Homo sapiens: one gene and its partner. The protein of the gene in region 1 purifies or fractionates together with the protein of each later gene. This does not show direct contact. Each region holds a gene or a part of one and is shown in the gene's direction. Other genes may lie near its edges.

Region 1 (3,754 bases):
GACAATTATATTCAAGAACTGCTAGAAATTACTTGAACCTCTAACATATCATGCAGGTTTTTTTGTTTTTTGAGACGGAGTTTCGCTCTTATTGCCCAGGCTGGGGTGCAATGGCGCGATCTCGGCTCACCGCAACATCTGCCTCCCGGGTTCAAGCGATTCTCCTGCCTCAGCCTCCGGAGTAGCTGGGATTACAGGCGCCCGGCACCATGCCCAGTTAATTTTTGTATTTTTAGTAGAGACAGGGTTTCACCATGTTGGCCAGGCTGTTCTTGAACTCCTAACCTCAAGTGATCCACCCGCCTCTGCCTCCCAAAGTGCTGGGATTACAGGCCTGAGCCACCGTGCCTGGCTGCGTTTTTCATCTTTAAACATCATAAAAACGCCTCAAAACTAGTTTCTCTGAAATTTCACACCCATCAGCCTTATTCCCTTATCTTCTCGGAGGAAGACTTCCCTCCACTTCTTTCCAGGCTAGGAAAGGAATATCCTCCATATTGCCACAGGACCTAGGCCTATTAGTACTCTTTCTTGGACATCTGCAACCTCCAACCTTCCTGCCTCCACTGATTCAAACTCTTCGCAGTTCTTAAATGTGCTAAAGATCCCTCCACACCAAAGGTCAATCGTGGATTCTCTCTTAATTTCCTGATAACTGCTTCATTTTCTTCCCTTGCTCCTTCGACTATCCACCTCTTGGCTAGACATCACATGCATGATTACATATACCAGGTAGATCACCAATACGCTGATTAGGCCTAAATGCCTAGCCCTGACTGAATTAGCCCAAACTTACCACTAAACCCACATTTTCAACCTCCTGATAGAATCACAAGCATGTCTCACATGCACATCAAATGCGACCTGGAAAGCAAAGAACTTGCTATTCTTCCCCCAAATGACAGTTCCCACTATTTGGGGACAGACCATTTCTACTCTATGTCCCCAAGCTGAAAAACTGTCTTTGCTGCCTTTTTGCTTACTCTTCATACGGATCTATTCATTGATTAGTTCCGTGGCTGTCAATATACAGTTGAATTCTTTACGATCCGGTTTGTGGCCTACATCCAACACCGACTGAGCACTTGCTAAGTACTGGGATCTGAAGATTACTCAGCCACTGTCTCCACGGAGATCATCGTTAACGGGAGAGAAAGCCACGTAAAACACCACGTTAGATGGAGAAGCACAGAGGACACCACCTCCACGAAAAAGTCTCACACGCGAGAAAGGACCCGCACCACAGCACCCGAGCCTCTATTAACCGCCGCCTTCCATCGTGAATTAATACTCTCGCTTTCAGCGTTATTATCAACCCCCTGCAAGCAATCAAGAGGCTGGGTTAAGTCCGGCTGGAGGGGCAGCAGGCATCCCTGGGCTGTCGCGCCTCCCAGCGCCCCCGATGGAGCAGGTGGCAAGGCTGCAAAAAGAATTTAAGGCTCTAGGAAAGAGGTGGTGCAGCCCGCACTCCAGTCCCCGGCCCGCAGCAGGCAGAGGAGGCTCCGGGTCTCCTTCACCCGGACACCGCCGGCGGAGAGGTCCACTCCCGTGCCCCTACCCTGGATGGATCGCTTACCTGAGGACCCCCAAACAGAGGTGCGTCCGGCCTCGCCTCCCCAGCCACGCGCAGCCGGCTACCCAGAGTCAGCTCCCACAGTCCGCACCCAGAGTCGGCTCCGAATTGCGCACGCGTCTCTGTCCGCGGCTCCCGCTCTCTCTCCGACGGCACTAGGCCTCCAAGGATGGAGGCGCCCTCCAGGGGAAAACGCTGAAGCGCTGCAAAGAAGCCAGCGACTCAATGGGTGCGTCAACTAGGCAGCCGCAGCACTGGGAGTGCGGCGCGGGAGTGACGTCACCAGGCGGAGGGGGCGAGGCCGGGCCCGCTTCTGGTCACTTACGGCGGCCGGCCTTCTTTGTAGGCCTGGCACCGTAGAGGTAGAGGAGCTACATTGGCCGCGTCCCCTGTCCCTCTGCCCTCTTGCCCATCTGCCCAAACTTTTGTATTTGATCTCTGTTTTGATGTCGAACCCCAAAGCACTGTAATTGGGGGGGGCGGGGGGGGGGGTGGAACCTGCGGACCTGAGAGCAGCGCGCGTGCGCACGACACGCGCTGTGCGCCGGAAGAGCACGCCCAGTCCGGGCTGCGCGGAGGAAGCGCTGGGGTCCCGGAGGGCGGGGGTGGCGGCGCCGGAGGTCGCCATGGCTACCGAGCCCGAAGCCGCGGAGCCGGTGGTGCCTTCGCTCGTGGATCGATACTTCACTCGCTGGTACAAACCGGGTAAGTGCGGAGTGATGTTGATCCCTCCTTGGCCGCACTGGCCTAATGCTGTGTAGACTATGTTGACAGATCATAAGCCACGCGCGCTCTCCCTGGCTCTCCGTCCCCACGTCAGAAGGCACTGGACTTCTGTGTTCCGTCTAGCCCCAGGGAATGGCATTTGCAAAGACCTGGTGGCCTGAAATACTTCAGGGCGCATTCTGGGGCCGGCGATTGCAGTGCGAGCTCTAGGGTGTTGCTCGCAGTAAGATGAGTACTCTAAACGGAGGCCCCAAAGGTAGGCGGAGGGCTAGGTTGCAACAGTCCTTAAGTGCCTGGAGGGATTGAGGGGCTCACTCTCACAGGGAGTAGCGATACATAAAATTATTTAAATGATCAGATCGAAACTAAGGTAGAGGCAGTAGGGATGGCGAGAAGAGGGTGGGTTAGATTAGAGACATTTAGAAAGAAGAAGAATCTATACATTTACCTTAAGAGACGCCATCTGCCACTTAGAAGTAGGTATTCTTTTTGTACTGTTTTGTGTAAGCAGAACCAGTGGTGGGAGCATCGTTGGGGACTCTCCTTTCTTCCTTTCATTCAGTGATAATGGTTATACTCAGTTTAAAAAATATATATTGTAGCATATTTTCTGTTGGCCAAACATAGGGTGACCAACCTGTCCTAGTTCACCCATGACTGAGGGGTTTCCCAGAATGTCGGACTTGCACCAACATCAGGACAGTCCTGGAAACCACCAACAAAAAATATATATCATAAAGAACGGGATGCTAATTGCATTTTCCTAGCAAAAATACTACGTGTACTCATTTTGAAGTGAGTGTAAAGTAAGATGGAGCAAGGAGTTAATTACCTTAATGTTGAATAAATTATTCTATCTGGGCCAGATCTCTTTAAATACTTTCTAGGAAACCTTTAGGTATGTCTTTTTGAGTAATGAAGGGATACCCGTGATCAGCATGCAGCATGTATGTGTCCAGTCTTCATTATCAACTATATGACCCAAAGAAAGTACCACATAGTGGTAGTAAATATTGATTTCAGCCACCAACAGACTCATGTATTCTTCTAGATGTCAAAGGAAAATTTTGTGAGGACCACTGTATACTACAGCACTCTAACCGGTAAGCAAATTGGGAATTTTAAATTATCAAAAATTTTTTTTTCCTGGTATTGTAGCCTGGTATGGTCTTGTGGTCTTGGATTGAACAAATGTTCACTAAACAAACATGCATTAATTATCTTCTACTGTGTTGAAATGGTATTATTATAGGAGTTTGTTTGGCAAGAATGAGTATTCCAGTGCCTGGCCACTCTGAACATATAAATTTGATTACTCAAACATCCAAATGGAGGACCACATCATCAGCTGCTACTTGAAGTGGCCAGTCTGTGCCCAACTACTGAACTGTTCAGAGCCCACAGAAAGGGCTACGGTAGAGACATGTATGGTATCTCGTATACACAGGCATGCCT
Region 2 (3,754 bases), on another chromosome or scaffold:
CCCACAAAGGTGACGCAGCCCATCCTCCAGACGGCTCTACCGTGCCAGATCCTCGGCCAGACTAGCCTGGTGCTGACTCAGGTGACCAGCGGGTCAACAACCGTCTCTTGCTCCCCCATCACACTTGCCGTGGCAGGAGTCACCAACCATGGCCAGAAGAGACCCTTGGTGACTCCCCAAGCTGCCCCCGAACCCAAGCGTCCACACATCGCTCAGGTGCCAGAGCCCCCACCCAAGGTGGCCAACCCCCCGCTCACACCAGCCAGTGACCGCAAGAAGACAAAGGAGCAGATAGCACATCTCAAGGCCAGCTTTCTCCAGAGCCAGTTCCCTGACGATGCCGAGGTTTACCGGCTCATCGAGGTGACTGGCCTTGCCAGGAGCGAGATCAAGAAGTGGTTCAGTGACCACCGATATCGGTGTCAAAGGGGCATCGTCCACATCACCAGCGAATCCCTTGCCAAAGACCAGTTGGCCATCGCGGCCTCCCGACACGGTCGCACGTATCATGCGTACCCAGACTTTGCCCCCCAGAAGTTCAAAGAGAAAACACAGGGTCAGGTTAAAATCTTGGAAGACAGCTTTTTGAAAAGTTCTTTTCCTACCCAAGCAGAACTGGATCGGCTAAGGGTGGAGACCAAGCTGAGCAGGAGAGAGATCGACTCCTGGTTCTCGGAGAGGCGGAAGCTTCGAGACAGCATGGAACAAGCTGTCTTGGATTCCATGGGGTCTGGCAAAAAAGGCCAAGATGTGGGAGCCCCCAATGGTGCTCTGTCTCGACTCGACCAGCTCTCCGGTGCCCAGTTAACAAGTTCTCTGCCCAGCCCTTCGCCAGCAATTGCAAAAAGTCAAGAACAGGTTCATCTCCTGAGGAGCACGTTTGCAAGAACCCAGTGGCCTACTCCCCAGGAGTACGACCAGTTAGCGGCCAAGACTGGCCTGGTCCGAACTGAGATTGTGCGTTGGTTCAAGGAGAACAGATGCTTGCTGAAAACGGGAACCGTGAAGTGGATGGAGCAGTACCAGCACCAGCCCATGGCAGATGATCACGGCTACGATGCCGTAGCAAGGAAAGCAACAAAACCCATGGCCGAGAGCCCAAAGAACGGGGGTGATGTGGTTCCACAATATTACAAGGACCCCAAAAAGCTCTGCGAAGAGGACTTGGAGAAGTTGGTGACCAGGGTAAAAGTAGGCAGCGAGCCAGCAAAAGACTGTTTGCCAGCAAAGCCCTCAGAGGCCACCTCAGACCGGTCAGAGGGCAGCAGCCGGGACGGCCAGGGTAGCGACGAGAACGAGGAGTCGAGCGTTGTGGATTACGTGGAGGTGACGGTCGGGGAGGAGGATGCGATCTCAGATAGATCAGATAGCTGGAGTCAGGCTGCGGCAGAAGGTGTGTCGGAACTGGCTGAATCAGACTCCGACTGCGTCCCTGCAGAGGCTGGCCAGGCCTAGACAGGTAATTCCACCTGCTCACCCAGGCAGCAGGGGAGAACGCAGCTTGCTTTCTTTTCGTTGCCAGGGTTAATATAGATTGTAGGGTACAGAGATGTTGACACAGATGGTGGCGTCTTTTTCTTGTAATTAACAAATAAGAATGATGTATATTGATCACATACAATATGATGTTTTGAAATATGTTTACCTAGTGGGATGGCTCAGTTAAGCTGATTCCCGTATGCATTACCTCACATACTTATTCTTGTAGTGGAAGGGTCTGGTTTTGGTTTTGGTGTTTTGTTTTGTTTTGTTTTTAGTGACAGAGTCTTGCTCTGCCACCCAGGCTGCAGTGCAGTGGCTCGATCATAGGTCATTGTAGCCTCAAACTCCTGGGCCCAAGCGATCCTCCCCCCTCAGCTTATCAAGTAGCTGGGACTTCAGGCATCTGCCACCACACCCAACTAATATTTTAATATTTTGGTAGAGACGGGGTCTCACTTTGTTGCCCAGGCTGGTCTCAAACTCCTGGACTCAAGGAATTCCTTTGCATCTGCCTCCCAAAGTGCTGGGATTACAGGCATGAGCCACTGAGCCCGGCTGATGAGTTATTTGTAAAGGTTCTTTGAAAAAAGAAGAAAAATGGGGGCTGATGGAACCTACGTCCTCATTTGTAAGGCTGTGCCCAGGGGGCAGCACCGCTGGCTGTGGCCTGTTTGGGCTCCAGCCTTCAGGCCTGTCCATTCTGAAGGTTAGTTTTGACTGTTAGAAAACACATCCTCCCTCTGTGTGTTTTGTGTTTGTTGCTGTAAAAACACCAAACATGAAGAGGTTGTTTCTTTTTTTTTTTCCCCCCTTTTCTTTTTGGATTTTTTAAGAATACATATCCAAGTTTACTGAATCAAAGACCTGAGCTTATTTCTTCTAATCTGAAAAGGCTTTGAAAGTGCTTGATATTTGCCTTGTCAGGGCAAAAGGAAGGTGCCACTGTGCTTGGGTCCCCATAACCCCTTCAAATCTGGAAGAGCCGGGTGTAAATTAGGCCTGTAGAGTCACATAAGCCGGGGGGGGGGGGGTGGCAGGGCGGTTTCCATGGTTACTAATGGCCATGTCATCCCCATAATGGGACATGCCACTGAAGCCCTTGGTATTCTGCTTCCTAAGAGGTCAGTGCAAATCGAGGCCTGAAGCACAGCAGCTTGGTGGTGAGTTGAGAAATGGGGGCAGTGGCAGGGGGAGGGCTGGTGGGAGGGAAAGCAAATATTACAAGGAGGAAGATGCACGATTTGCCCAGGTAGGCTTCTCCAGAGGTCACTTAAAATACCACGGAATGGGCCTCCCAAGTTATCTTTACAAAATATAAAATAAAGGTAAGAACCTCCAGAATGATTGATAAGGTCCCAAAGGCAGCCCTGGAAATTACCACACCTCTGTCTTAATGAACTTGGACAACTTTGGCTGACCACGTCGCTCATTAACTCATTGATTCACTAATAAAATGAGGCAGCTGACAAATAAATGAAATTCTCTAGAAACCTTGTTTTAGCCAGTTCCATCCGCTATTAAAAGAGCACTTTAACGAGCAGCCAATCCCAGAATGCCATCATGTTCCATTCTCCTTTCTCCTCCCACTTGCAGGAGGAAATGCCTGTGTGTCAAGGGTGTGGGCACAACCCAAAGGGGAGGGCGTGAGTGAAAGGAAGGGGATAGAAGTGTACTGAGGTCACAATGACAGCAACTTCCCACCTCTACCTGGCCACCTCTGGCCATTCTCCCACCTTAGAAGAACCTACCAGTCTAGCCCATACCTCCCTCATTAAAATGAGGGAGTGATTTTTTTTTTTTTTTTTTTTTTTGAGACAGAGTCTCACTCTGTTGCCCAGGCTGGAATGCAATGGCACGATCTCAACTCACTGCAACCTCCACCTCTTGGGTTCAAGCAGTTCTCCTGCATCAGCCTCCCGAGTAGCTGGGATTACAGGCATGCGCCACCCCACCCGGCTAATTTTCATATTTTTAGTAGAGACGGGGTTTTGCCGTGTTGGCCAGGCTGATCTCAAACTCCTGACCTCAGATGATCCACCCACCTTGGCCTCCCAAAGTGCTGGGATTACAGGCGTGAGCCACCACGCCCGACCTCCCATCTTCTATCCTTGATCTTTTCCCATCCATGACACGTGTCTACATGGTTGCTTTTTCCTCCCACCCCAGAGAGGACAATAGGGTTCAGTTCCATTCAACAGTACCTTCTGAGCACCTACTGTATGCCTGCTGCTACTCCAGGAGCTAGAAACAGTGCCATGAGAGAGACAGACAA

The links. The genes of interacting proteins can lie anywhere in the genome.
Region 2: the proteins of ABITRAM (region 1) and ZHX2 purify together in Homo sapiens (affinity purification with mass spectrometry; 2 studies listed by BioGRID and IntAct, with this or other methods). This does not show direct contact.

Annotation. Positions count from the first base shown.
Region 1 is NC_000009.12:108,932,288-108,936,041, forward strand, and holds the start of ABITRAM (protein Abitram), read left to right. Parts: upstream 1-2,112; 5' UTR 2,113-2,199; coding exon 2,200-2,278; intron 2,279-3,350; coding exon 3,351-3,402; intron 3,403-3,754. UniProt on the Homo sapiens protein: Actin-binding protein that regulates actin polymerization, filopodia dynamics and increases the branching of proximal dendrites of developing neurons.
Region 2 is NC_000008.11:122,952,570-122,956,323, forward strand, and holds part of ZHX2 (zinc fingers and homeoboxes protein 2), read left to right. Parts: coding exon 1-1,455; 3' UTR 1,456-1,459; exon of another isoform or gene 1,460-2,968; intron 2,969-3,754. UniProt on the Homo sapiens protein: Acts as a transcriptional repressor. Represses the promoter activity of the CDC25C gene stimulated by NFYA.